Linked DNA regions of Homo sapiens. The protein of the gene in region 7 purifies or fractionates together with the protein of the main gene of each other region. This does not show direct contact. Each region holds a gene or a part of one and is shown on either strand. Other genes may lie near its edges.

The links.
Region 1: the proteins of LYPD6B (region 7) and UGGT2 purify together in Homo sapiens (affinity purification with mass spectrometry; one large-scale study listed by BioGRID and IntAct). This does not show direct contact.
Region 2: the proteins of LYPD6B (region 7) and TIMP2 purify together in Homo sapiens (affinity purification with mass spectrometry; one large-scale study listed by BioGRID and IntAct). This does not show direct contact.
Region 3: the proteins of LYPD6B (region 7) and ERGIC1 purify together in Homo sapiens (affinity purification with mass spectrometry; one large-scale study listed by BioGRID and IntAct). This does not show direct contact.
Region 4: the proteins of LYPD6B (region 7) and DCAF6 purify together in Homo sapiens (affinity purification with mass spectrometry; one large-scale study listed by BioGRID and IntAct). This does not show direct contact.
Region 5: the proteins of LYPD6B (region 7) and PSME4 purify together in Homo sapiens (affinity purification with mass spectrometry; one large-scale study listed by BioGRID and IntAct). This does not show direct contact.
Region 6: the proteins of LYPD6B (region 7) and SPCS2 purify together in Homo sapiens (affinity purification with mass spectrometry; one large-scale study listed by BioGRID and IntAct). This does not show direct contact.

What each region holds. Positions count from the first base shown.
Region 1 is NC_000013.11:95,948,670-95,952,754, forward strand, and holds part of UGGT2 (UDP-glucose:glycoprotein glucosyltransferase 2 precursor), read right to left. Parts: intron 786-4,085; coding exon 666-785; intron 1-665. UniProt on the Homo sapiens protein: Recognizes glycoproteins with minor folding defects. Reglucosylates single N-glycans near the misfolded part of the protein, thus providing quality control for protein folding in the endoplasmic reticulum.
Region 2 is NC_000017.11:78,865,940-78,870,024, reverse strand, and holds part of TIMP2 (metalloproteinase inhibitor 2 precursor), read left to right. Parts: intron 1-1,794; exon of another isoform or gene 1,795-2,051; intron 2,052-4,085. UniProt on the Homo sapiens protein: Complexes with metalloproteinases (such as collagenases) and irreversibly inactivates them by binding to their catalytic zinc cofactor. Known to act on MMP-1, MMP-2, MMP-3, MMP-7, MMP-8, MMP-9, MMP-10, MMP-13, MMP-14, MMP-15, MMP-16 and MMP-19.
Region 3 is NC_000005.10:172,840,588-172,844,672, reverse strand, and holds part of ERGIC1 (endoplasmic reticulum-Golgi intermediate compartment protein 1), read right to left. Parts: exon of another isoform or gene 3,803-4,085; intron 1-3,802. UniProt on the Homo sapiens protein: Possible role in transport between endoplasmic reticulum and Golgi.
Region 4 is NC_000001.11:168,005,927-168,010,011, reverse strand, and holds part of DCAF6 (DDB1- and CUL4-associated factor 6), read right to left. Parts: intron 1-4,085. UniProt on the Homo sapiens protein: Ligand-dependent coactivator of nuclear receptors. Enhance transcriptional activity of the nuclear receptors NR3C1 and AR. May function as a substrate receptor for CUL4-DDB1 E3 ubiquitin-protein ligase complex.
Region 5 is NC_000002.12:53,960,533-53,964,617, forward strand, and holds part of PSME4 (proteasome activator complex subunit 4), read right to left. Parts: intron 1-4,085. UniProt on the Homo sapiens protein: Associated component of the proteasome that specifically recognizes acetylated histones and promotes ATP- and ubiquitin-independent degradation of core histones during spermatogenesis and DNA damage response.
Region 6 is NC_000011.10:74,958,836-74,962,920, reverse strand, and holds part of SPCS2 (signal peptidase complex subunit 2), read right to left. Parts: intron 1-4,085. UniProt on the Homo sapiens protein: Component of the signal peptidase complex (SPC) which catalyzes the cleavage of N-terminal signal sequences from nascent proteins as they are translocated into the lumen of the endoplasmic reticulum.
Region 7 is NC_000002.12:149,209,396-149,213,012, reverse strand, and holds part of LYPD6B (ly6/PLAUR domain-containing protein 6B), read right to left. Parts: intron 22-3,617; coding exon 1-21. UniProt on the Homo sapiens protein: Likely acts as a modulator of nicotinic acetylcholine receptors (nAChRs) activity. In vitro acts on nAChRs in a subtype- and stoichiometry-dependent manner.

The DNA.
Region 1 (4,085 bases), on a different chromosome or scaffold from region 7:
TCATTAGTTCTTTTTAATAAAGAAGAAAAAGTTCTGTCATAAATTCTTTTGAAAAAATGTAAAAGTAACATTAATATGGTTATTATAAAATGACATAAGGGCTAAAGAGTAAGAGGCAGAACATGTGACTAATATGGTTTGGCTGTGTGCCCACTCAAATCTCATCTTCAATTGTAGTTCTCATAATCCCCATGTGCCGTAGGAGGGACCCAGTAGGAGGTAATTAAATCATGGAGGCAGTTGCCTCTATGCTATTCTTGTGATAGTGACTTCTCAGGACATCTGATGGTTTTATAAGGGGCTTTCCCCTTTTGCTCATACTTCTCCTTCCTGCCACTATGTGAAGAAGCACGTTTGCTTCCCCTTCTGCCATGACTGTAAGTTTCCTGAGGCCTCCCCAGCCATGCTGGGGAGTCAATTATACCTCTTTCCTTTATAAATTACCCAGTCTCAGGTATGTCTTTATTAGCAGCATGAGAACGGACTAATACAGTGACATGGCTAGTTGTTGATACCCAGTCAGCCATGCCACCTAAGCTTGCTGCTTCAGGCAAATACTTAACTTCCTTACAACTCAGATGCCTATTCATTGACAGAAGGATAATCCAGAAAGAATGCTGATATCTTTATAAGATATATATGTATAATCAAAATATAAAACTCACCAAATTATGAAAATTGCGCCTTATGGAAGGTACACTTCCAGGAAATACTGGCTTCAGAAGTTTCTGGCAACTTGTAGGCCATGTAATATACAAATCATCATTTTCTAAGTCATTAATCCACTAGAAAAGAACGCAGACACTTGTGAAAGCTATATTAACACTGAAATCATTTTCAAAGCCAGATTTTTACTATATCGTGATAAATAAAAATATACATAGAATTTTCTATATTTCTGATTAAATAGAGGAGCTAGTTTAATATTCTCTAAATTAAGGAATACATTATGTGCAACAATTTTATACTTGTGTAGCCTTTTACATTAAGCCTTCTCTCAAAAACAATTCCTTTCACTTGTGTTTGTTTTTCATATCCCAACGTAAAATTGTATGAAAATTACTCTCCATAAACCACTTAAGAGAGATGAATATTTATTTTAATTATCAGCAGTAAATGAAGCCCTCTCCACCTCCCCTCTCAATTTAAAGGCTTGGATATAAGGAAAATAAAATGGCTTATAAAAATTAAATTATAAAATCAACATCTTAGAAATCAAGTTCTAATCCACTATACAAGCTGGAGAAAACATATAAACTGCTGTTTAGAGGCATGTGGTCGGGGAAGCAACCACCAATCAAGAAGTGAGGCATTATGGTCCTTGAAAGCAGGAGGCATAAGCAGCAAGCTCCACATTCACCTAAACTTCATCCCTGGGTCCCCAGATTGCGTCCTGGAGAAATACTGAGTTGGAAAGCAGAAGTCAAAGTACGGGCTGCCAAAGTGCTGAGATTTGAGGGCAGGATGCAGGGTGAGAGGGTAGGAGAGAAGGAAACTGCAGGAAACCAGAAAAATCTCCATACAAATTCCTCTCAAGTCATTTGCTGACTCCTATCCTGCACATATACATGGTAACACCTCTACAAAAGCCAGAAGGAAAGAGAAACGGAGAGGTTGAAACCACAGCTATAAAATAGTACTGAGAAGACAGAGACCAAAGTCCAAGTACTATATAGTACTATATACACTGTAGACTTTCATTTGAGACCCAGTAAGGCCAGATCCTAGAAGTAAGACACAAAAATAGTAGAGCCTTCACAAAGCCTAAAAACAAGCTTCAACAGAAGCAAGTGAGCATCTGGCACTGAGGATACCAGAACAAACCTTAGCTCTTTGCTTCTACAGCTTTTCATCAATTTCTGGCTCTCACAAAAAAAAAAAAAAGTCATGCAAAGAGAAAAGGACCAAATATTGAAATGAAACAGGAAAAAAAAAAAAGACAATAAAAAACCCCAAAGATTACTTAGACAAGGACTTTAAAATAACTATCAATATATTTTTTAAAAAGTACAAAAATTTCTAAAAAGAAAAATTTTGACAGAACTAAAATCTGTTTAAAAAGAATCAAAGAGATATTTAAGGTTTTTAAAATATAATATTTATAATTAAGAACTCTAAGAACTTATTGGGTGGGTTTAATTGCAGACTGTACGCAGAAGAGACAGGGATTAGTAAACGTGACAACAGATCAACTGTTATAGTAACTAAACTACAAAGAAAAGAATAAACAAACCAAACAAAGTGTGAGAGAGATTAGGAATATATGAAAAAGATCTAGCATATAGGTAACTAAAAATCCAAGAGGAAAGGAGAGAAAGTCTGGAGCAAATAATACTTGAAGAAATTAGGTTTCTACAGTAATTCAGATAATCCAGGTATGAGTTTATTGTGGACTGAACTAAGTCAGAGGCAGTGGCTTCAGAGAAAAGGTGACAGAATTAAGAGACACACACAGATGGATGAATAAAACAGAGGAATTTAGGGTATATGTTCCAATAGCTAAAAGAAACGATGTCTAAATAAAGGAAGGCATGAAGACAAATCAATAAACAGATAAAAATTACAAAAAGAACCAAATAAAAATTTTGGAATTCAAAAGTATAATAATTGAAATAAAAAATTAATGAGAGGAGCTCAACAGCATATTTGAGCAGTTAGAAGAAAGAATTAATGAATTTGAAGGTAAGTCAATGAGCTTACTCAGTCTGAGGAAGAAAAGAGAAAGGAAGATATAGGTGCAGAGGAGTCTAGCCCCAAAGGGGAAACAGGCCTTATCTTGACCCAAAGGCAGCTGAGGGTGAGAATTTGGCAGCTCTTTGGAAAGGGCAATCAGAACTCCCATTCCCAATGGAGCTCAGAATCATACAGAGCCTTCAAGCAGTGCCACTTTTCCTGACTAAAAGCAAGTGTGCCTAGACAGACAAAATGAGACTCTCAACTACAGTGCAACTAAACTTGTGGTCTGAAGACTGTTAATAACCTATAAGTACAGAAATTAAGTGTTCAACAACTTGCAGTAATTTGACATGGCCATGACATTTGAGCATGTATCAGTCTCATTTCACTGAACATGGTATAAGCCAGCTTGGGGTTCATCAAACTCCTGTGGTGTGCCACATGTAGTACAAAATACATATTACAGCACTTTGGGAGCCTGAGGTGGGTGGATCATGAGGTCAGGAGTTCGAGACCAGCTTGGCCAACATAGTGAAACCCCATCTCTACTAAAAATACAAAAATTAGCCAGGCATGGTGATACACGCCTGTAGTGCCAACTACTCAGGAGGCTGAGGCAGGAGAATCGCTTGAACCCAGGAGGCAGAGGTTGTGGTAAGCTGAGATTGCACCACTGCACTCCAGCCTGGGCAATAGAGCGAGACTGTCTCAAAAAAAAAAAGATACATATTAGTCATAGGAGTAGGACAACATATTGATTGGCAACAGGTTAAGGAAAAAATGTTATTCTCTTACTATGGATAGTTTAAGAAGTAGTGCTCTAGCACTTGATGAGGGCTATCTCTGAAAAACCACAGGAAAAAAAAAAGAAGAAAAAAAGAAATTAACAAAAAAAGATACGACGGCCCCAGGCTTTGCTAGGGTCCAAGATGAAAGCATTATCTGTGGTCATTCTGATACTGATAAGATTTTGGCAAAAGATATACCCACCCCCTAGTATCTGTAGGGGGATAGGTTCCAGGACTCCCCGAGGATACCAAAATCTAAGAATATGCAAGTCTCTAACATAAAATGGCATAGTATTTGCATAGAACCTACTCACATCCTTCCATATACCTTAAATCATCTCTAGATTACACGTAATGCCTAATACAATGTAAATGCTATGTAAATAGTTGTTATATTGTTTTAAAATTTGTATTTTTTTATTGTTTTTCTTTTTTTGAGTATTTTCATTCCATGGTTAGTTGAATCCAGGCATGTGGAACCCTTGGATATGGAAGGCCAATGATATTTTGCATCTATGATCTTATTGAAACCTATTTACCAAGTCACGAGGAAAAAGTGAGTTTGTGGGTTTTTTCCCTTCTATGAAGATAATATGAAAATCATAGCTTATGAGATTAGGA
Region 2 (4,085 bases), on a different chromosome or scaffold from region 7:
ACACTAACTCCCCCTTCTCTCTTCCTCAGCCTTGGCCCACCTCCATTTTACTTTCTGTCTCTGTGGATTTGACTACTCCAGGGGCCTCACATGGGTGGAACCCTGCAGTGTTTGTCCTCTCTGTCTGGCTTATTTCAGTAGCATCATGTTTTCAAGGTTCGTTCACGTTACAGCATACATCAGAATTTCCTTACTCTTTTTTTTGTTTTTGAGACAGAGTCTCGCTCTATTTCCCAGGCTGGGGTGCAATGGCACTATCTCGGCTCACTGCAACCTCCGCTTCCCAGGTTCAAGCGATTCTCCTGCCTCAGCCTCTCAAGTAGCTGGGATTATAGGCACACGCCACCACACCTGGCTAATTTTTTTTTGTATTTTTAGTACAGACAGGGTTTCACCACGTTGACCAGGCTGGTCTCCAACTTCTGACCTCAGGTGATCCGCCCACCTCAGCCTCCCAAAGTGTTGGGATTACAGGCGTGAGCCACCACACCCGGCCCAAAATGTCCTTACTTTTTAAGGATGAATAATATTTCATTGTATGAATGTAGCACATTTTGTTTATTGTTGCATCTCTTTGTTTATAGTTTTTTGGTTTGTTTTTTTTTTTTTTGAGACAAAGTCTTGCTCTGTTTCCCAGGCTGGAGTGCGATCATGACTCACTGCAACCTCGATCTCCTGGGGTCAAGTGATCCTCTCGCCTCAGCCTCCCAAAGTGCTGAGATCAACTACAGGTGTGTGCCACCACACCCAGCTAATTTTTTTATTTTTTGGTAAAGAAGTCTCACCATGTTGCCCAGGCTGGTCTTGAACTCCGAGGCTCAAGCAATCCTCCTGCCTCAGCCTCCCAAAGTACTGGGATTATAGGCGTGAGCCACTGTGCCCAGCCTATATTTTTATTCCTAAGTAAAATTATTTTCCCTTACTTCCTTCTACGGCCTCCTCTGCTTGCCCAGCTAGGCTGAACCACAGGAGGCCAGGACAGGATTCTCAATCTCAGCACTATTAACATTTGGGGATGGACCATTCTTTGTTGTGGGGGCCTACCTTATGCATTATAGGATATTCAGCTGCATCCCTGGCCCCCACCCTCTACATGCCACAGCACCCGCTCCAGTCGCGGGGTCTCTGGACATTGCCACATGTGCCCAGGGGAGGTGGGGTAGATTGCCCCTGCTTGAGAACCACTGGGCTCAAAGAGCTTTCTGCAGTGATGGAAGCGGTCTCTGCACCATCCAGTCCAGCAGCCCCCAGCCTTGTGGCTCATGAGCACCCGAGATATGGCTAGTGCAGCCGAGGAGCTGCATTTTAAATTTTATTTCATTTCAAGTAATTTTAGTATAAATGTAAACAGCCACATGTGGCCGGCAGCCGCAGTCTAGCATGGCACTGACTCAGCCAGTTAAGGAACATTATTCCCCTCCTCCCTGGGGAAGTAGGAATCTGATCACAAACTTAAGAAAAAAAGAATAGACAAGGCCTGGTGCAGTGGCTCATGGCTGTAATCCCAGCAATGTAGGAGGCTGAGGCGGGCGGATTGCTTGAGGTCAGGAGTTCAAGACCAGCCTTGCCAACATGGTAAAACCCTGTCTGTACTAAAAATACAAAAATTAGCTGGGCGTGGTGGCAAGTGCCTGTAGTCCCAGCTACTCAGGAGGCTGAGGCATGAGAATCATTTGAACCCAGGAGGCAGAGATTGCAGCAAGCTGAGATCACGCCACTGTACTCCAGCCTGGGTGACTGAGCAAGACCCCATCTCACAAAAAAAAAAGAGAAAAGAAAGAAGAGACAAGACAATTCCCCTAGCCTGGTACTATAGTTTGTTCCAAAAGGCAACTGTAATCATAAACATATACTCCAAATCCAAATATCCATGATTGGGGGATTTTCTTCTGGTTTAGGTGACATGTACTTTTTTCCCTTCTAAAAATCAATGTGTGCTTAGTGAGCACCTGTTAGGTGCCCAGCCCCGTGTTAGAGACAATGGGAGATTCCCACGGTGAGATCCTTGGCTCTGGTCATCATGGAGCACACAGATGTTCCGAATGGGGAGACTGGAAAAGAAAGAAAATAGATTTTGCTTGTGGAGAATTGTGAATAGTAAGTGAATGCTTAGAAGGTGCAAAAGGGGCCGGGCGAGGTGGCTCACGCCTGTAATCCTAGCACTTTGGGAGGCCGAGACGGGCAGATCATGAGGTCAGGAGATTGAGACCATCCTGGCTAACACAGTGAAACCCCGTTTCCACTGAAAATACAAAAAAAAAATTAGCCGGGCGTGGTGGCGGGCGCCTGTAGTCCCAGCTACTCAAGAGGCTGAGGCAGGAGAATGGCGTGAACCCGGGAGGCGGAACTTGTAGTGAGCCGAGATCGTGCCACTGCACTCCAGTCTGGGCGACAGAGTGAGACTCCATCTCAAAAAAAAAAAAAAAAAAAGAAGGTACAAAAGGAAGAGAGACTCTCACAGGTCCAAGGGTCTAGACAGACTTGCTGCTGGAAGAAGGTGGTGTCCTTGCCTATGGATGGGGAGGAGGTCATTGCAGGGAGGAAGATGCAGGGCTGTGAGTTGGGCAGGGAAGACTCCTGTTATCTCCCCTTGGGTAAGATCTTCCCTCCCTTCCTTAACATGCTCACAGCTCCTGCTTTGCTGGGTATCTCGGTCATCAAGACTTCTATCCCTCTCCTTGGGGATAATAGGAGACTTCCCCCCCTTTTAAGATGCATTTCTGGACTTCCTAAAATGTTTTATTATGAGCACTTTTCTTATTCTCATTCCAAGACAGAGTCTCCCTCTGTTGCCCAGGCTGGAATGCAGTGGTGTGATCTTGGCTCACAGCAACCTCTGCCTCCTGGGCAATTCTCGTGCCTCAGCCACCCAAGTAGCTGGGATTACAGATGTGTGCCCCCATACCTGGCTAATTTTTGTATTTTTAGTAGATACGGGGTTTCACCATGTTGGCCAGGCTGGTCTTGAACTCCTGACTTCAGGTGATCTGCCCGCCTAGGCCTTCCAAAGTGCTGGGATTACAGGCGTGAGCCACCGCGCCCGGCCTACAATTCAGTGGTTTTAGTATGTCACAGAGTTCTGCAACCATCACTACAGTCAAAAAGAAATCCTGTATTCTTGAGCTATTACCCTCCTGACTCCCCTCCCCCTCCCCCAGCCCTAAGCAGCCACTGGTATACTTCCCGTCTCTATAGATTTCTCTATGCTGGGCTTTCCTGGGAACGGAATCATACGTGTGACCCTGTGTAACCGGCTTCTTTCGTGTTTCCAAGGGTCATCCATGTTACAGTGTGTATCAGAATTTCATTCCTTTCTATGACTGAGTATTCCACTGTATGGATAGACCACGTTTTGTTTATCCGGTCATCATTTGATGTGCATTTGGGTTGTTGCCACCGTTTGGCCATTGTGACAAATACTGCAATGAACATTGGTGTGTGAGATTTTGCAGGGACCTGTTCTCATTTTTCCTGGGTGTATCCCTGGCAGTGGAATTGGTGGGGTCGGGGGTGGGGAGGGGTTGGGTGACTTTAGGTTTAACCATTTGAGGAGCTGGCAGACCGTTTTCCAAAGCAGCTGCACCATTTTACACGCCCAGTATTATCTATGATTTTTACAATAAGAAAAAAAAAATCAAATGGAGAAGGGTAGAGGGACAAAAACCACCTGTGGTGCAAAGATCTTACCAGCTAACTAATGCCCTCAAAAAAAACACAGAGGAGGCAGGAGAGCTGGGGTGGCCGCACAGCACGCACGGTGGCGCGTGGCAGAGGCATGGTCTGCAGTGTGGCATTCGGGGGCTGCTGCAGCTGTGCACAGAACAGAGCACGGGAGGAAATTTCCCAGCGTGTCAGCATCTGCTGTGTCTCCTTTTCAGTTCTTTCCTGTATTAAACCTTTAAAATTATGGCATTTATTACGTTTGTCATCAGAAAAATAAAATCTGGAGAGACAAGAAAGGAGACAGAATCCCCCGTGGTGCAGGGAACTTACTTCCAGTTTTCTGCATCCTGTTTGTTCCTATCCACAGGGAACAGCCTTTAAAGTAAGTCCCAGCCGTCCCAGCTCAGTTTCGTCACACTGCC
Region 3 (4,085 bases), on a different chromosome or scaffold from region 7:
GGGAGGGGGCTTAGCATGGGATGGGGCCCCGAGGCTGCCTGTGCCCAAAGAAATTGACTTGTGGGTCCCTCACTCCTCTGCCTCCAGCCTCAAGTCCATGCCCACCAGGCCACCTCCCACGAGCCCAAGGTCCTGCCCACCCCGAGCTTGTCCTGGTCACACTGCCATGTGCGACACAGAGGCGGCACCCTGCCTGTCATAGGCTATCGTCAGCCCTCAGAAGGATTTGTTTGGTGTTTAACAGAAATAAAATTGAGATCAGTGGCCAACCATTTTCACGCAATTTATCAGATTTTCATTGTCTCTTGAAAAATCAGGGCATCTGTAGGCAGTAAGCAACAGAGCTGCATGTCAGCTGTCCCTTCCCCACAGGGCCTCGCGCTCCAGGTGGCCATGGCCCACATCTTGCCCAATCACCGACTGAGGTACTTGCTGATAGGTAGGGGCGCCTGAGTGTGTGACCCTCTGGCCACTTTCTCCCTTACCACAGACTGGTGTTTGACGTCTATGGCTGTGTGGGTACCACAAAGGGAGAGGGGTCTAACTCTGGGTCTGACCATCTCAGGTGTTCCCATGTGATTGTATCTGTGCCCTGCAAACCCCGGAGGCCCTGGTTTTACCACGTCCACCTACCAGAAGACCCACTACTGCCATCTATCACGGCTCGGTGAGGTGCACAGGACTATGCCGCCAGGAAAGGCAGAGGAGAGGGAAATGTCCTCCCGCCTCCAAGTATACTTGTCTCACATTCCACATGAGCTCATCTCACCCTCACAAAATCCCCGCAAAGAAAGTATGAGCACCCCAATTTGCAGATGAGGAAAACTGAGGCTTGCAGAGGCAAAGTGTCTTGTCCTGGGCCCCACAGCTGGTAAACACTGAGGAAGGGATTTCAATCCAGAGAGTTCTGCCGAATGAGTGCAATGTGAGGGTCAGTTCCAAGGGCACTTCACAGCGTTCCGCAGGGGACCTGTGGTCAGTCCCCAGAGGGGTTTGCAAGGGCGAAGACCATTCAGAAAGGGTGGCCAGGGTTGGACCGCTACATACCACTTTCCCCTGAAGACTTGGAGACTCTTTCTGCACACCATGAACATACTCTTGGACCCAGCAAGACATCAAAACACGCCAAATATCACCAGGGTTTCCCAAAGTTCTTAAAGGATACTTTAGGTAATTCTATATGTTGGTGTGAAAGTGGGAGGGGAGAGAAGATCTAGTGAAGAATAATAAAAATCAGCAAGAAAAATCAGCAAAGCAGGATAGCACCATGTGAGGTGCCAGGCTCTGGGACCCCAGCTCTGCACCTCACCAGCTGTGTCCTGGGCCACTCCCATTCCAGCTCTGTGCCTTGGCTTACCATTTTAAAACTGAATAAAGAAAACATTAACGGAGTGAAAACGCAACTACAGAATGGAAGAAAACATTTGCAAACCATACACCTGATAAGGGGCTAATATCCAGAATATATAAGCAACTCCTTAAACTCAGTGGCAAAAATAAACTTCTATTTTATTTTATTTAATTTTTGAGACGGAGTTTCACTCTGTCACCCAGGCTGGAGTGCAGTGGCACAATCTCGGCTCACTGCAACCTCCGCCTCCCGGAGGTTCAAGCAATTCTCCTGCCTCAGCCTCCCAACTAGCTGGGACTACAGGCGCATACCACCATGCCCAGCTAATTTTTGTATTTTTAGTAGAGATGGGGTTTCTCCATGTTGGCCAGGTTGGTCTCGAACTCCTGACCTCAGGTGATCCACCCACCTTGGCCTCCCAAAGTGCTGGGATTACAGGTGTGAGTCACCATGCCTGGCCAAAAACCCTCCAATTTTAAAAAGCACAAAAAATGTGAATGGATATTTCTCCAAACAAGACATACAAATGGCCAAGATCTTGAAAAGATGCTCAAAATCTCTATTCATCAGGGAAATGCAAATAAAAATCACAATGAAATGGCACCTCATACCTGTTAGGATGGCTATTACCAGAAAAACAAAAGACATGTTGGCAAGATGTGGGGAGAGGGAATGCTTGTACACCGTTGGTGGGGAGGAAAGATAGTGCAGCCACTATGGAAAACAGGAGGAAGATTTCTCAACAAATTAAAAATAGAGCTACCATAGGATCCAGCGGTCCCACTTTGGGGTATTTATCCAAAAGAATTGAAATCAGGATCTCAGAGACATCTGCACTCCCATGCTCACTGCAGCATTATTCATAACTGCCAAGATGTGGAAACAACCTAAATGTCTATTAATGGGTAAATATTGGTATATATACACCTTGAAATATTACTCAGCCTTAAAAAAGGAAATTCTGTCATTTGTGACACCATTGATGAAACTGGTGGACATTACGTTATGTGAAATAAGGCAGACACAGAATGAAGACTGCATGATTCCACTTACATGAAGTATCTAAAATAGGCAAATATGGTGAAACCCCATCTCCACTAAAAATACAAAATTAGCTGGGCTTGATGGTGCATGCCTGTAATCCCAGCTACTTGGGAGGCTGAGGCAGAATTGCTTGAACCTGGGAAGTGGAGGTTGCAGTGAGCCGAGATTGCGCCATTGCACTCCAGCCTGAGCAACAAGAAGGAATCTCCGTCTCAAAAAAGAGGGTGCTCTGATGTTAGGTATTCTTACCACACAAAAAATAACCAAATTAATAGTATGACTATAAAGTGACAGCATGAGATGTGAGGGGTGATAGAGATGGAGCTGTCCTGTATCTGGATGGTGGTGATTACATGATAAACAAGCCTTAACTTTCATAGAAGAGTGCACAAACACACATTAATTTTATCATATGCTAACTTTAAAAATAAAACAAAGAAAATAAATCATGAATCATTGTATCTGTCTGTAAGGCCAGTGTGATTTTATAAGTCCAATGACATGCCTAGCCCAGTGCTCAAGACATTACAAGCTGAAGGGCCGTGAGGTATTGCTAATAAGATGAGCATTACTTCTCCTCCTCCAAAGATATTCAAGACCCAGACCAGAATCTGAGAAAGGAAAGCTAATGCATGGAGGGGCTATCACAACGCCAGTCCCCAGTACATCAGGGACATCCGGGTCCTCTGACTTTACTAACTGTAATTACAGCCAGGCCTCTCATCTCGAATAGGGTTTCCACCTTTTGGAGAAACAGAATGGTTTGTCCATTTCAAGCGGATCTGCCTTCCTGTGTAGCTGTGCTGCCTGGCAGGTGCCAGGAGGAAGGCTAATTGTCAAGGGCATGAGGATTACGCTGTCAGAGGCACCAGCTGTTTCCCAGCATTTCTGAGGGTCGGTTTCCCTGGACATAAAACAGGAAGGATCATGCCCACTCAGAGGGAGAAGAGGTATCTGTAAAGGACCCCACATGTCCCCTGGCTCTTGGCTGTATGGAGAACCCTGAGTTCACCCTGCCTCTCCCGTGGGTCAAGATTTTTTTTAAACAAAGACAGCCAGCGTTGGAGGTTTTTTTCCTGTCCTGTACTTTTCCCACATATACAATCAATGTAATTAAGTTAATAGACCTAAAAGTTAAAGCTGACAACAGACAATTAGGCTAATTGCCACTTCCTTAAAGGATCAATTAGGGCTGTGTTTCCCAAACTGTGTTTTGAGAAATGGCACTAGCTGCTCCATAAACAACAGGGCATCTGAGACTATACATGTGGCAAATGTTGGGCTGAACCAAATAACTCTGGTTCGCTCAGTGCCGGACTCTTCAGAGTCCTCAGTGAGGCAGCCAGTGCGGCATGGAGGGACACAGACTGGAGGACACTGAGTCAAATCAATCATACAGACCAGGGCTTTATACATTTTAATGAATACATGAATCACCTGGGGATCTTGTTAAAATACAAATTCAGATTCCAGGTGGGCACTGAGATTCTCCACTTCCAACAAGCTCCAAGGTGCTGCTGAAGCTGGCATCTGGGACTGCACTTTGAAGAGCAAGGTTATTAGTAGAAAGTTACGGCCCCTTACTGTCCACTTCACTGGTGGGGTAACAGAGTTGCCGAAGGTCATGCAGGAGTGATGGGTGGGACGGGAACTCCACGCCCCAGCCTCCCGAGGCAAGGCTCTCCACCGC
Region 4 (4,085 bases), on a different chromosome or scaffold from region 7:
AAATATACCCTATCTAGTCTATATCAGCTTAAAGATAACAAAATGTCTCATCACACTTTTAATCGTATCTTTAGAGGGTGAATATTGTTGGGGAAAAAAGATGCTTACTCAGAGACAACAAGATAGACAATATCCTGTCTTCAAGAGAGCTTATCATAGTAAAAGAAAATTATAAATTTTTATAATTGCTTTTCACAAAATAAACAGGGTTATATAGAAGAGAATAAAATTTCAGCAAGAAGAAAAAGGAAAGAGGACTTTACCTAGGGTAGTTATGAAAGACTTGTCTTATATGGCATTTGAGCTGAGACTCAAGGAAAAGGAAGTTGGCCAAGTGATAAGCCAGGACAAGGGCTTCCCAAGCATACAGAGAATAACACTAAGAACAAAGTGTAAGAAGGAAAGAGGGAAAGAAAAGAAAAGACAGGAAAGAGAGAAAGATGGGAAAGGAGAAAAAGGAGAAAGAGGAGAAGGAAAGAAGGGATGGAGGAAAGAAGGAAGGAAGGAAGGGAGGGAAGAAGTGAAGGAAGGGAGGGAGGGAGGAAGGAAGAGAGAGAGACAGAAAGAAAGAAAGAGAGAGAGACAGAAAGAAACAAAAGAGAGAGAGAGAAAGAAAGAAAGAAAGGAAGGAAGGAAGGAAGGAAGGAAGGAAGGAAGGAAGGAAGGGAGGAAGGAAGGAAAGAAGAAGAGAAGAGAAGAGAAAGAAAAGAAAATGGCAGGGCACAGTGGCTCACGCCTGTAATCCCAGCACTTTGGGAGGCCGAGGAGGGCGGATCACAAGGTCAGGAGATTGAGACCATCGTGGCCAACACGGTGAAACCCTGTCTCTACTAAAAGTATAAAAAATTAGCCGGGCATGGTGGCAGGCGCCTGTAGTCCCAGCTACTTGGGAGGCTGAGGCAGGAGAATGGCGTGAACCCAGGAGGCAGAGCTTGCAGTGAGCCGAGATCACGCCACTGCACTCCAGCCTGGGCAACAGTGCAAGACTCTGTCTAAAAAGAAGAAAAAGAAAGAAAGGAAGGAAGGAGAAAAGAAAAGAAGGAAGAAAAGAAAGAAAAGAGAGAGAGAAAGAGAGAGAGAGAAAGCAAGCAAGTGGGAGGAAGGGAGGGAGGGAGGGGGGAGGGGAGGGGGTGGGGGCAGGGTGGAGGCGGGGTGGGGCGGGGGAGGGCAGGGCAGGGCAGGGCAGAATTTGGCACGGAAATTCTCTGATAACCGAAAGAAATCAGTAGTACATCTAGAGTGTAACAATCATCAAGTACTGAGAAAATTGAATGAGATGAGGCTAGAGAGACAGGGAAGGGCAGGCCATATAAATTCTTATACGTCCACAGTGAGGAGTTTGATTTTTTTTTCTTTTGTAGTTGTATTTCCAAATGCAATTAGGAACTTCTGAAGGGATTTAAACAGCAAAGTTATATAATCTGATTTAACATGTTAAAATACTCATTCTGGCTCCTGCATGGAGAATACATTATAATGGAACAACAGTAGGTACAGGCAGATTAATTAGGAGACAAGAAATGATGGTGAGATGAAAAGACCCAGGTTATAGTTTAGATACAGGAACAAAAGAACTTGCTGATGAGCTGGCATGGGACTTGAGGAAAAGGAAGGAATCAAGAAAAACTCACAGGTTATTCAAATAAGCAAATGGACCAAGAAGGAGCCAATTACGGAACAGGAAGGGTAGGAGGCTGCATTAAGTTTTAGTTTGAACATGTAGATTTATGACGTACAACAATAGGCCGGGTGCAGTGGCTCATGCCTGTAATCCCAGCATTTTGGGAGGCCGAGGCGGATGGACTGCTTGAGGTTAGGAGTTCAAGACCAGCCTGACCAACATGGGGAACCCCATCTCTACTAAAAATACAAAAATTTGCTGGGTGTGGTGGCAGGAACCTGTAATCCCAGCTACTTGGGAGGCTGAGGCAGGAGAATTGCTTGAACCCAGGAGGGGGAGGCTGCAGTGACCTGAGATTGTGCACTGCACTCCAGCCTGGGTGACAGAGTGAGACTGTCTTTAAAAAAAAAAAAAAAAAAAAAAAAAAAGATGTACAACAATAACAAAAACATACTGTCAAAATAGCAGTCAGACATCAGGCATAAGGGTCTGGAATTCAGGGTAGAAGATCAGATTGCTGATATATATATTTGTGAGTCATGAATTTACAGGAGATATTAAAAGCTATGAGGAACTGACACAATCACCCAGAGAAAGAGTGTATGTAAAGAGAAGAGAAGAGAGCCCAAACTAAGGGGTTTGATTATAATATTCAGAAGGAGATAGAACAAGAAACACGAACAACAGTTACTGAAAACCCACCAGAATTAATAAGAGTAAATAGGCAAATATGATATCATAGATACCAAGAAAGGAAAGTGTTTCAAGAAGGAGTGACAGCCTATGTTAAATGCAACCGGGTCGAAAAATCTAGTAAGGTACTAACAGAGAAATATCCTTTAAACTGGTGAATGTCACTAGTGACTTTGATTAAAAGTTTCAGAGGAAAAGGGGGTTGAAAAGCAGATGGGGGTTGGTTAATAAATAAATGAAGGATGGCAAGAAAATGGAGAGAGCATCTATCAACAACTCTTCTGAGGATTCTCATTACGAAAGCAGCAGAGAAATAAGGCAATAGCTGAAGGGGAATGTGAGATAATTAAGAGAAAATTTTTAAAGAAAGGAGATAATAAGAGCATGTTAAGGCCAAAAGAAACAATTTGGCAAAAAAAGGCAATGATAATGCAAGAGAAGGGGCGAAATCTTTGAGAAGCTGGAAAGGGATAGCAACTACATTGACTAGCTTTTGATAGGAGCTTTCTGCTTCTATCACAATGTGAGTACAGATGTTGGAAAGCTGGGAAATTATTGACAGTAGGAAAACGAGTACTTTTCATTGTGAATGAAAGGTTAGAATCTGGAAGTGGGGCGGGGATGAAGGGAAGTATTAAAGTTTGAGAGACATGAAAGTGTAAAATAGTCATTTTGTACAGCTGGAGAGCAACAGTGTGAGGCTGCTCTGATGCACAGTGTTGAGCACCCATTGAAATTTGTGGTCATAACTTTCTTCATTATCATTCAGTGATTCCACTGTAGACTAAGAGAAGGCAGACAATTAGGTTCAACCAGAGATGGAGCGTAGCAAATTTTCATATTCCCATTGTCCGTTTCTTTGATATCAGTAAAAATGAGGGAGGACATGTAAAGGGATAAACATTTACATAAAAAGGTATCCACAGCAAGGCAAGCATAGACAGAAGTATACTTTATCATTTTCTCTATCTCTATGCAGGGAAATAATAGAAATCATGGTCCTAAGCTGACATTTCCATCTACTACATTCACCCAATGGACAATTCCCAATATTCACAAACACATTTGGACTTAGGCTATGGCAAATGCAAAAGAGATTGGACAAAAAACAAAAACAGAAACAAATTAAGTCCTTACTCCTGAAACGTTGAACTCCAGAATAATGAAAAAGCTGTTATCAGAACAACTACAGTCATAACCTTCAGATGTTACATCTAACACCAAATCATTTTTCTCAATAGTGATAATGTCTTGATAACATGGAAATATTCTAATTATCTATAGCTTAGTCAACCAAAATTCTCTCAATAATCTCCCAGTTAAAAATATTTCCTTACTTCCTATAAATAATTTATGAGTAAAAGTACTGCATAATGTTTCAATAATCATCACATGACCACCAAAGATATTTTTTCTTCTTCAATAATTCAAATGATTGTCACATTTAATACTTACATTAAATATTGAAAGGAATTTAGCAATTTGAAATGCAGTAATTAAAATGCATTAGATAGCTTTAAAAAATAAAGTTCCAAATACTTTACTCATAAATATATTTAAGAAACAACTAGAATTAGTTGAGATTCAGTGGAAGCTGAATGTAAGCTAGAGTCTTCTTGCTAAGTTTTCCTAAAAACTTATAATTGATCAATATGTTCAAGAATATCACTTTAAAAATTCTTGCTTTTCCCAATTTTACCTGCTTTGAAAAACAAACTTTTAACTACTTCTGCTTTTAATTCCCAAATCTTCCAAAATATTTTATTTTTCC
Region 5 (4,085 bases), about 95 Mb from region 7:
ATAATCAACTCTGGATATAACATTTATTGATTTCAACCAGTAGCCAAGTAAGCAGGAACAGCATGGTTCTACAACTCTGTTAAGAACTCAAACTGCTCTGTCAGTCCCTTGGGGAAGTCATTTAATCTCCATAAAATCTGGCTTTCTTCACAAGGCTATGGTGACAGACTGATAAACGTACATGAAAGATGCTATAACTTAACGGTTCTTCAGTGGGGCTCTGGGTACCAGTTGCTTTTGAATTTTTTTTTATGTTCCACAGATGTATCACCTGGTTTGAAAACCACTGGACTGGCCAGGCGCGGTGGCTCATACCTGTAATCCCAGCACTCTGGGAGGCCAAGGCAGGCGGATCACGTGAGGTGAGGAGTTCGAGACCAGCCTGACCAACATGGAGAAACCCAGTCTCTACTAAAAGTACAAAACTAGCTGGGCATGGTGGCGCATGCCTGTAATCCTAGCTACCCAGGAGGCTGAGGCAGGAGAATCGCTTGAACCTGGGAGGCAGAGGTTGCAGTGAGGCAAGATGGTACAATTGCACTCCAGCCTGGGTGACAGAGCAAGACTCAGTCTCAAAGAAAGAGAGAGAAGAAATGTTAAGTGTAAACCAAATACAGAAGTAGTCAACCTCAAGGTTCCAAATGGGAATATTTATAGTATGTGCTGCTTTTAACATTCCAATAGAGGTCTCAATGAATGTAGAGGTTTTCTGTTGCTGTTGTTGTTTGCTTACCGTTTTTACTACCATGCTCTCAGTTTGGTGTTCATATAGAATGAGATTTTGATCTAATTTTCTACAAAGGTTAGACAGAAACATAGATTAGGATTTTTGTATTTGAAAAGGAGGGAAGAGGCGCTAGGTGCAGTGGCTTATGCCTGTAATCCCAGCACTTTGGGAGGGCGAGGCAGGAAGATTTGAGCCCAGGAGTTTGCGACCAGCCGTGGCAACATAGTGAGACCCTGTCTCTACAAAAATAAAAATAAAATAATAAAAACCTAGCTGGGTGTGCTGATACATGCCCGTGGTCCCAGCTACTCCAGAGGCTGAGATGGGAAGATCGCTTGAGCCTGGGAGGTTGAGTTTGCAGTGAGCTGTGACAGCGCCACTGCACTCCAACCTGGGCGACAGAGCAAGACTGTCTAAAAATAAGGGGGGGAAGGGGGATGTTTGAAATGCTCATTCCCCATTGCTGTAAAGAAACAGCACTTCAACATAAATTTAATTTCCTCAGCAAGGCCATTTTTATACTTTCTGCAGAAAAGGTACACTCGCCAGCAGTTTTGCCAGGAGAGTACACCCAACAAAGGAGACAGGGTCATTTATAACCCGAAGCGTCCACCCTACTGTTGTGTCCGGTTTCCACTTGCTAGAACGGGACCTCACATTCTGTATTTGTCCCGATTGGCTAGCAACTTAGAACTTTTTAAAAGAGGCAAAGGCAGAGAACAAAGGAAGGAGGAAGTAACTTGTGGAATGCTGAGAAAGATAAAAACACCTTCAAATAAGGAAGAGGAACAGGCTATGACCTAATGCTTGCTTGGACCAGTATAAGCATGCCAGGGCAAATATTTAGGCTAAATTGTGGGAGCTAAGAACATAAAGTACATTGATTTCTTCATTATGGCTAGCAGATATTTAAGAATGTTTGCAAGGGTCTTTGAATAAATTTTGCTTGTAAGAGAAGTTACTATTTATTCCTAATTAGATGGGGAGGAAAGTCTTTGAAGAGGAACCTCTACTTTTTACAGGGGCGAAAGGGATTCTCTAAAAATAAGTCTCATTTAGCAGAAAAAAGTTAATTCCCAGGTTCCATAAGAAAAACAGTTCTTAGAAGTTATATAGTTATATGCTTATTTACAAGCTTGCCAAAAAAAAAAAAACAGTAAAAATTTGCCTCCACTTCAATTAACAACAGGTATTTCAAATACAATTTTATTTTACAACACTGCAGAAAGAACACTTGGGAAAACCATTCTTAAGTGACATTCAGATCTCAGAACATCAAACGGTACATTTCTTTTTTCTAACTGCCTTTCTTAGTGCCTCAAAGTAAGGCATTAAAACACAGTGGTCAGAATGAGATTTTCTTTTCAAATAATACATTCAGAATTCCTATTTTCTTCAATGTTTTTGATGAAGTTACCACCTGGCCTAGTCTGTCCTAAATGAACAAAAATGTGCACTGAATAAAGCACACAGCTGGGCACGGTGGCTCACGCCTGTAATCCCAGCACTTTGGGAGGCTGAGGCAGGCGGATCATGAGGTCTGGAGATCGAGACCATCCTGGCCAATAAGGTGAAACCCCATCTCTATTAAAAACAGAAAAATTCGCCAGGCATGGTGGCTGCACCTGTAGTCCCAGCTACGCAGGAGGCTGAAACAGGAAAATCACTTGAACCCAGGAAGTGGAGGCTGCAGTGAGCCGAGATCGCGCCACTGCACTCCAGCCTGGGTAACAGAGCGAGACTCAGTGTCAAAAAAAAAAAAAAAAGGACACATACCATATGCAGTGGCTCACGCATGTAATCCCAACACTTTCCCAACACTTTCAGGAGGCAAAGGTGGAGGATCACTTGAGCCCAAGAGTTCAAGGCCAGCCTGAGCAACATAGTGAGACTTTGTCTCAAGAAAAACTTTAAAAATTAGCTTGGCGTGGTGGTATATGTCTGTAGTCCAAGCTAACCAGGAGCCTGAGATGGGAGGATCGCTCGAGGCCAGGAGCTCAAGGTTAAAACAGGGGGGTATGATTGCACTCCCTATGATTCCAGCCTGGGTAAGAGACCAAGACCATCTCTTCAAAAAAAAACACACAAAAAAGAAAGAGCGCACTGAAACTTCCAGAGGGCAGAAAACTTGCGCTGATACATCCCAAACGCCAAAACCAGTGCCCAGCCCACGCATTGCACTCAAAAAATTGTGTTCAAAGAAGATTGATGTCTGCCTCTACTACACTGTATTAACCCATGACTGTACACTAACCTATGAGCCTCTTGTGTCTTCATTTTTTAAATGAAGGTAACTTAAGAGAATACTTGTTACCCCAGGATTGAGTCTAAGTCTTCAAAGGTAAAAGGCAGAAATGAAAGATGTCATAATGTGAAAATGTTCATTAATGAGCTATTTTCTTGATCTCTGTCCATGAGATTTGATTACAGTAAACCTTAGGCAAAAAAATGCAAATGAAATGGAAACTCAGAAGTAAAATCACAAATTTGGCAAAGAAGCAGAACCTTATGAGATTGATCAAAGTGATAATAGATGTTAATTTTTTTAGGTTTTATAATAGTATTGGTATTGCTTTTTTTAAAAAATTCCTTTTCCTTTGAAGATATATACTGGAAACATTCATGAATAAATAATATACTTCAAAAACAATGGGGAAAGGGGATGATGAAAAGAACATAACTGGCCATGAGTTAATTAAGTGAAGATAGGTGATGAGGTTCATTATATTGTCTTTTGAATATTTGATATTTTTCATAATAAAAAATATGTAATGAAAAGAGTTTAAATATTAGAAAACTTCAAATCAGAAACACACATATGCTCATTGGCCAGTGATGTTCAGGAAGAAATAGCCAATTAACTAGTGAAAAGAAAACGACAAGCTGTTTTCAAGAAATTACTGAGAGATCTCTGGAAAACAGTAAGGGCCTCAAATATTTTTGAAAAAAAAGTATATGTGTGACATCATCATGAAAAATCAAATGTATGCATGTGTAGAGACAGAGGGTATACAGGAACTCTATACTTTCCATTCAATTTTGCTGTGAACCTAAAATTGCTCTCAGAAATAAAATTTTTGAAAAAATCAAATATGAAATATGTCTTATTGTGCTATTACATTATACAACTTTATCAAAGAAATTCATGTTCTCCAAAATCAGTTCCTTTTTTTTCCCCTTATGGAAAATCAACTTTCTCACTACAAAGAAATTTTGGTTCCCATTTTGAATGATCACTTAACAACAAAGTAAAACCTCTTCTATCACTCTCTCTAACTGGTTCTCACTGATGAGTTTGGTAACTTGTCAAGATTTCAAGATTCATTTACAAATAAAACCACTTGCATTTATTGTGTAC
Region 6 (4,085 bases), on a different chromosome or scaffold from region 7:
AATTTGGGAGAATAAAATGCAGAAGCAGCCATTACAATGTATTGAAATAGCCTCAGCTCTAACTTCACTGCCTGGTACCTAGAAGCAATCTTCAGTAAGTGGAAAAGAAACATTTCCAGTGAATTACATGAAATCACAAGAAAGGTTATAATTTGACTTTACGGCAACACAGCCCATTTCGAAGCAAGTAATGTCTCTACTACAGTATGGAGAACCATCTGGAAGAAGGGGAGTTGCTATTAGGTGCTTCTTTTTCTGATTATTACTTCTCATCATGCTCAAAAACTGCTCATCAACTAAAATGTATGCTGCTCCTCATGTTCTCTCTACTACTAATTCGGGTATTTTAAAAGCTATCTTTTTTTTTTTTTTGCCTCAATTTTGTCTTCCTCAACACTAATTGCAAATTGCTTTCCTTTTGTAATAATAAAAAGAGAAAGCAAAAATTAGTTTCTTTTATGTGGGACCTCACAGGATAAATTAAAAAGAAGGGCAGTGTGCAGAAATAAGTGAACCTGGGTCCAAGACTGCCATCTTTAGCAAGGCTTGTTTGCAAGGTTGGCCCTTGGCTGGTATCTGACAAGCTGGCTGATAAAACAAATCCCTACACTGATATAAATACATTCCCTCAGTGATAAGAATGGCTCACTGTGCCTCAACTGTTTGTATAAATGATGTGATTTATGTTGAACACCTTTCCTTCTGGAAATCTAGAAAAAGTTCTTTATGTTGCCAGTATCTAAAATTTCAAGATGATATCCCTTACACAGGTCAATTTTCACCCACTGTAAAACTGCTATTGCCACTCATCTTTTTATTGCAGCACTAAGCAGACCCTCAATCCAGAAACCAATGTCCTTCAGATTAGAAAACTAGAGTTCAAAGATGTTAAGTGCCATACAAATAGTAAATGACAGGCCAACAAAATTCTTTAGGGCTAAATTACAAATACATGGCTCATTATAAAACTGTCTCTTCTTCAGTGATATAAACTTATTTTTATTTGCCTTAATCCCTGAACTCAATCCCAAAGCAGATTGTGGCCTTATTCTTAAAGGTGTACTGTACTTCAAATCACAAGCTGATTGGTTCTGGTCAGGTGCAGTGGCTCACACCTATAATCCCAGCACTTTGGGAGGCTGAGGCAGATGGATCATTTGAGGTTAGGAGTCCGAGACCAGCCTGGCCAACATTGTGAAACCCCATCTCTACTAAAAGTACAAAACTTAGCCAGGCTAAGTAATCCCAGCTACTTGGGAGGCTGAGGCAAGAGATCACTTGAATCCAGGAGGCAGAGGTTGCAGTGAGCCGAGATGGTGCCATTGCACTCTAGCCTGGGTGAACAGAGGAAGACTCCATCTCAAAAAACAAACAAACAAACAAACAAACAACAACAACAACAAAAAACAAGCTGACTGGATTTAGACTAAATACAAATGTATGTAGGCAAATGCTTTTTTTCCTTACCCAATAAGGTGAATCCTTATTATCCAAGGGAGAATGGAGTCAGGCTACTTTATTTTAATCCTCACTTTTCCACTTAATACTGGAAGGCACTGGGCAAATAATTTAACCTCTCTAAAGCCTTATTAGTTTGCTAAATTGTAAAATTAAGATGGTGAAAGTATCTATTTCACAGGTTGGTATGAGAAGTAAATAGTGTAATTATAAAACATAGCACAGTGCACAGTGCCTGGTACCTAGCAAGTACTTCATAAAAATTAGCTATTGCTGTTGCTATTAATGATATAAAACTATATAATACACTGCATCATGGTTACCTGACTGTATGTATTGTCTCCCTCACTGGGTCACAGGGACTATACACTTTTGTATTCTCAGAGCCTGGAACACAATATACTCTCAATAGCTTTTTTTTTTTTTTAATGTCTAAATCCTTATAAAGAAAAAAAGGGAAGAAAAAGATCTCTAAAATGTTACTCTCCAGTTTAAATTTAGCAAATGTAAACATGGTCAAAATGATCTCACTTGGTTCTTATTCACAGAATTTCTTTAAGGGATGGAGGGCAGACAGAAGGTATAATCATAGCTACCATTTCCTGAATGCCTAACATGTGCTACGGATGTGCTAAGTATTTTATATACACTATCTCACTTAATTTCCACAATAACTCTACAAGGTAAGAACAGTTAAAATCCTCCTTTTACAGATAACACTAAGGGTTTAAAAAACCTGCCAAAGGTGAAAGGCAGAAAGTGGTAAAGCCAGGACTCAAAACCCATGCTCTCTCATTATTCTACACTGCTTTCCCATGAAGTGCAAGGAAAGGAATTATTAGCCATCAAAAACACAAAGAACAGGAAACAAAGAGATCCCTGAAGTGACAGCTATACATTGTATCTTGATTCCTAACAAGCTCTAGTAATAACATTTTAAAAACCTAAAAAAAAAAAAAAGATGTTAATCTTGAATAGGACCACAAAACTCACAGGGTATCAAAAATGTTGAACCTCCCCCCCCAATGTAAAACCAACTGCAATTTGGCTGAAAACAGAGCTCAAAAAGTACTATCTTAAAGAAATTACTCCCCTACACCACCCACTGAAGAGATAAAGACAACTTTTTTTTGAGACAGAGTCTTACTCTGTCACCCAGGCTGAGCGCAGTGGCGCGATCTCAGCTCACTGTAACCTCCGCCTCCTGGGTTCAAGCAATTCTCATGCCTCAGCCTCCCGAGTAGCTGGGATTACAGACAAGTGTCATCACAGTCAGCTAATTTTTGTATTTTTTAATAGAGATGGGGTTTCACCATGTTGGCCAGGCTAGTCTCGAACTCCTGGCCTCAAGTGATCCACGTACCTCAGCCTCCCAAAGTGCCACCACACCCGGCCAAGATAAAGACAACTTTTGTCAGACTAACACACCTGATGCCAGAGCTGGCTGGCTAACCAGTTCAAAGAAAACAGGCATTTGATAGCTTTAATAGAACATTATGAAGAATCATTTCAGTTACGTTTCTCCACTGCACATTTGAATAATAAAAAATTCTACAAAGACACTTCACTGAAGGTATGGCATCAGGAACTCCATAAGTGCTTAGGAAGGATATTAAACACAACTCAGGTCTGAAGGATATGTAGTCAGTACAGGAAGGCATTTTCCAAATTAACTCATTTGAGGGAATACAGCCTTCTGTTCCCATGCATCTCACCACACTCAAAGGGATAGGGTGGGATCAAAAAAAGAGACAAAATAAGCCAGGCACAGTGGCAACATGTTTATAACTTCAGCACTTTGGGAGGCCAAGGTGGAAGGATCGCTTGAGTTCAGGAGTCTGAGATCAGCCTGGGCAACATAGCAAGACTCCTCCGTATCTACAAAAAAATGTAATTTAAAAAATTAGCCAGGTGTGGTGGTGCCCACCTAAAGTCCCAGCTACTTGGGAGACAGAGGCAGGAAGATGGCTTGAGCTCAGGAGGTATAGGCTGCAGTGAGCCGTGATTGTGCCACTGCACTCCAGCCTGGACAATAGAGTGAGAATCCATCTCAAAAAACAAAAGGACAAAATCCTTGGTCATTAGGATATGTCCAGCAAAACAAAATTGTTTTGAGTATGACACATGAACACCTTCAATTATCTTATTTTAATCACAGTGAAAACAGAAGTTATGCAGTGATATAAAAGACCTGAGTGGATTGCTTCATAAAGTTCCCTGGCTTGATAATAAGACTCAAAGGATTCCTCAATTCACACTGGAGAGATGAAGAATTACCAAGGGTGAGAGTGGTGTCAATGGTGACCCTGTTCTGATTTAGACAGAACTGAGCATGGCTTTAAGAAAAATAAACTTTTTCTCTCCTTTATCCCAGTTTAGAAAGTAGACAGAAGCTGCAAAGGGGGAAAGTAGTAGGAGATGAGGCATCCGAGAGAAACCATTTCCTAGTTATTAGGCTAAAGAACTTGAACTTTATTCTGAAGCAGGCAATGGAGAGTATTTTAAGCATGGGAATAACAATCAAATTTACGTTTTTTTTTTAAGTCATTTTAGTGGCAACCTGGCAGATGATCTGGAGGGGAGTAACACTGGACATAGAGATGCAGATGGGGCCTGATGTAAGTGCA
Region 7 (3,617 bases):
CTGTCAAACAGTACTGTGTATCTAGGCAAGAGGAAACAAAAAACAAAACCAAGAAACAAGGTAATTTCAATATCCATATTACAAAAGAGATCTCTTAACAATTAATGCAGAAAGGACTCAAATTCAGGCCAGTCCTGGGGTTTTTAGGCAAGACATTTCATAGCAGTGAACTCTGAAGTTTCTAGGTGATATTTTTCAAAGGACACCAGCTTCTGAAGAACATATGTGTTTTGAAAATGAACGTAAATGGGCGCTCATCCTGTGGTTTCAGTTAGAGCTGAGGAAAAACTGCAAGCATTTTATCAAAACATGGGTCTGCTCATTTGATATGAAAATATTTATGTCTCTGGCCCTCTCTCTCCCTCTGAAGCACGTTCTCGAAATCTAAAATAAAATGAAAATTGTGATGGTAAAACGCAATGGGTCAGAACAGTTGTTTCATTATACAGTTGTTTCATTACTCATCATTTTTCTCTTGTATACTAATAGGCCATGTGGTGAGCTGGGGTGAAAAGCAGGTGCTTCGAATTATACATCACAATCACCTTTTTCACTCATTTATTAAATTGTAAAACCCGCAATTCATTTTGCACCAACCTAATAATTTCTTTTTTTTTTTTTTTTTTTTTTTTGAGACGGAGTCTTACTCTGTCCCCAGGCTGGAGTGCAGTGGCGTGATCTCGGCTCACTGCAAGCCCTGCCTCCCGGGTTCACACCATTCTCCTTCCTCAACCTCCTGAGTAGCTGGGACTACAGGCACCCGCCACCACGCCTGGCTAATTTTTTTTTTTTGATTTTTAGTAGAGACGGGGTTTGACCATGTTAGCCAGGATGACCTCGATCTCCTGACCTCATGATCCGCCCGCCTCGGCCTCCCAAAGTGCTGGGATTACAGGCGTGAGCCACCGCGCCCGGCTGCACCAACCTAATAATTTCTATTCTGGTTCTAATCCTACCAACATGTTAGACTTTTCTCATCCATGTATTTCCATTTTTTTTCCTCCTCTTTTACTTTCTCTGTTTCCCACCCACCACCTCCTGCTTATCTACAGTACCTCATTTCTACCCAGCTATCTACAGTACCTCATTTCTACCCAGAATTATCCTTAAGGTTTTAACCACTCACATTTTATTACTTAGGGTTCTTTGAAGAAGTTTCATTCAATATCCTAGGACATTATTCTTTGGTTCTGTGTCTCTTTTATACCAGAGGCCAATGAAATGCTTCTTAGTTTACTGATCAGAGACTACAACAGCAATGTCATAGAATGGGAAAAAAATTGGACTAAAGCTGAGAAGACTGGGCTTATGGAACTGCCTTTGTCATAGGTGAGCAAGTCATGGTAGATCTTCTGAGCTCATTTTTTTTTTTTTGGTTTTAGTAAAATGATAGATAATAAGTGTCTTGATGCTTTGATAGGGTTGTGATAAGCTTTACATAATACAAACAGTAGCAAACCCATACTGAGTGTGCACTATCAGCCAGGTACTCCTATAACTTGTGTTCAAGCATTCAATCTTCACCATAAGCCTTAAGGTAAGTCATATTAAGGTAAGCCTCATTTTACTGGTAAACTGAGGACAATTTCTTGCCCATGGTCACAGAGAAAGAAAATGGTGAAAAGTAGGATTCTAACCCAGTAGTTTTCCTAGGGCTTGCACTCTTAACCAGAACATTATTCTACTCCTCAGTATACTTAATATTAAACCACGTGGCAATTGATATGGTTTGAGTCTGTGTCTCACCCAAATCTCATATCAAACTGTGAGCCCCCATGTTGGAGAGGGGAGGTGATTAAATCATGGGGGTGGATCCTTCATGAATGGTTTAGTGCCATCCCCTTAGTGCTGTTCTTGTGATAGTGAGTTCTCATGAGATCTGCTTGTCTAAAACTGTGTAGCACCTCCCCCCTCTCTTTCTTGCTCCTGCAACCACCATGTGAGATGCCTCATTCCCTCTTTGCCTTCTGCCATGATTGTAAGTTTCCTGAGCCCTCCCCAGAAGCCAAGAAGACGCCAGCATCATGCTTCCTGAACAGCCTATGGAACCGTAAGCCAATTAAATCTCTTTTCTTTATAAATGACCCAGTCTCAGGTGTTTCTTTATAGCAATGCAAGAACGGACTAATACAGTGATATAATGTAGAGTGTCCTACAAGAGTAGCTGACTTCCAGATTCAAAAGGAAAGGGAGCCGCTAAAAGTTCTGGAGAAAACATTTCAATTTCCACTCTAAACAAAGAAGAATCGAAAACTGGTGGCTGCATGTGTTCATACAGAACGGGACACATGCTAAGGCAGCCCTAAAAAGTCAGCATAAAAGCCGGGGTAAATAAAACAAGAAATGTCATTCTTGTCATATCCTGTTACACAGAAGACTTCTTTTAACAACACCAACAGACCACAGAAGTGAAGCTGTAAAGTAAAAAGGAAATCTGAGATGACAAAGAACAATAGCCGTAGGCCTATTTGCCCCGAGAAATGGTTGACTATCACTCCCTGAAATGACAAAGTGAAAAGTAAGAAGTTACACCCTCAATTAGAATTCCAGGTGGTTAGTATCTTTGGGACCTGCCTGGCCTATAGTAAGAATGTCCTATCATGCCATGCTGGAATGCAGGGCCATTCCGTATTGAGCCCATTAAGAGTCAGCCTCTCAGGTGGACTTGGCAGAGCAGACTCTCTTCCACCCTTCCCATCTCTGATGTTTTCTTGGTGGTGGAAAGCTGCAGCTTCTCCTTTGGTTCAGCCATGTTTCAACAGAGAAGAAATCCTAAAGCCCAGAAACAGCCATGCATCTTCTTTGCCTGCATGCTAAGATGGCTTTGGTCAACTAATGACAAGTTGGAGCATTATGTACAGACCTAGAAGGAGCAGTGTTTTGGTACAATTCAAAACAATAGCATGAGCCATGAAGATAAGGCCTACCAGGTTGGACATCAGTGCCGCAGTTTACTACTGTTCTAACCCTTGCTGCCCAGCTTTCAAGGCAACTTAAAGCAAATTGTTAAAGGATGATACTCTCTGAAATAAATTAGTAAAGAGAAGCATCAACAAACCTTGAAAACTTTGAAATAACAAAGATAAATTTCTGTTGAAAATGTAGAAATAAATCCCCAAATACATACAATCATGCATGCACATACACTCATAAGCGCACACACAACTTAAGGATGATCCCTTGACAGAAATGTAAAAGAACCTCAAGAAAAACATATTTTGTTAATTAATTATTCTTGAAAATAAATAACAAAAAACACTGTCCACATGGATGCCACGGCCATTTGTGCTAATTTATGGCATACGATTCTCAGGCATAGTAGAGGTCTCCAATGTATTTATTGGATTAGTATTTATTGGCTCCACACATTGGCTGTAACTGGAAGAGGTAAAGCTATGCCACTGCTATAAATAATGTGGTACTGGAATTTCCAAAAGATTCCGGGTAACAGTAGACCAAAACTAGTTATCTCTAATTCTGTAAGAGTTTTTTTTTCTTGGCCTCTTATATCTGAAAAACCTAAAAAACAGTACATCCTAAAATCTGAACAACCCGATCTCCTAAGTAGGGTTTTAACATTTCAATTCATCCATCAGCACATTCTGTCTGCTTTACTT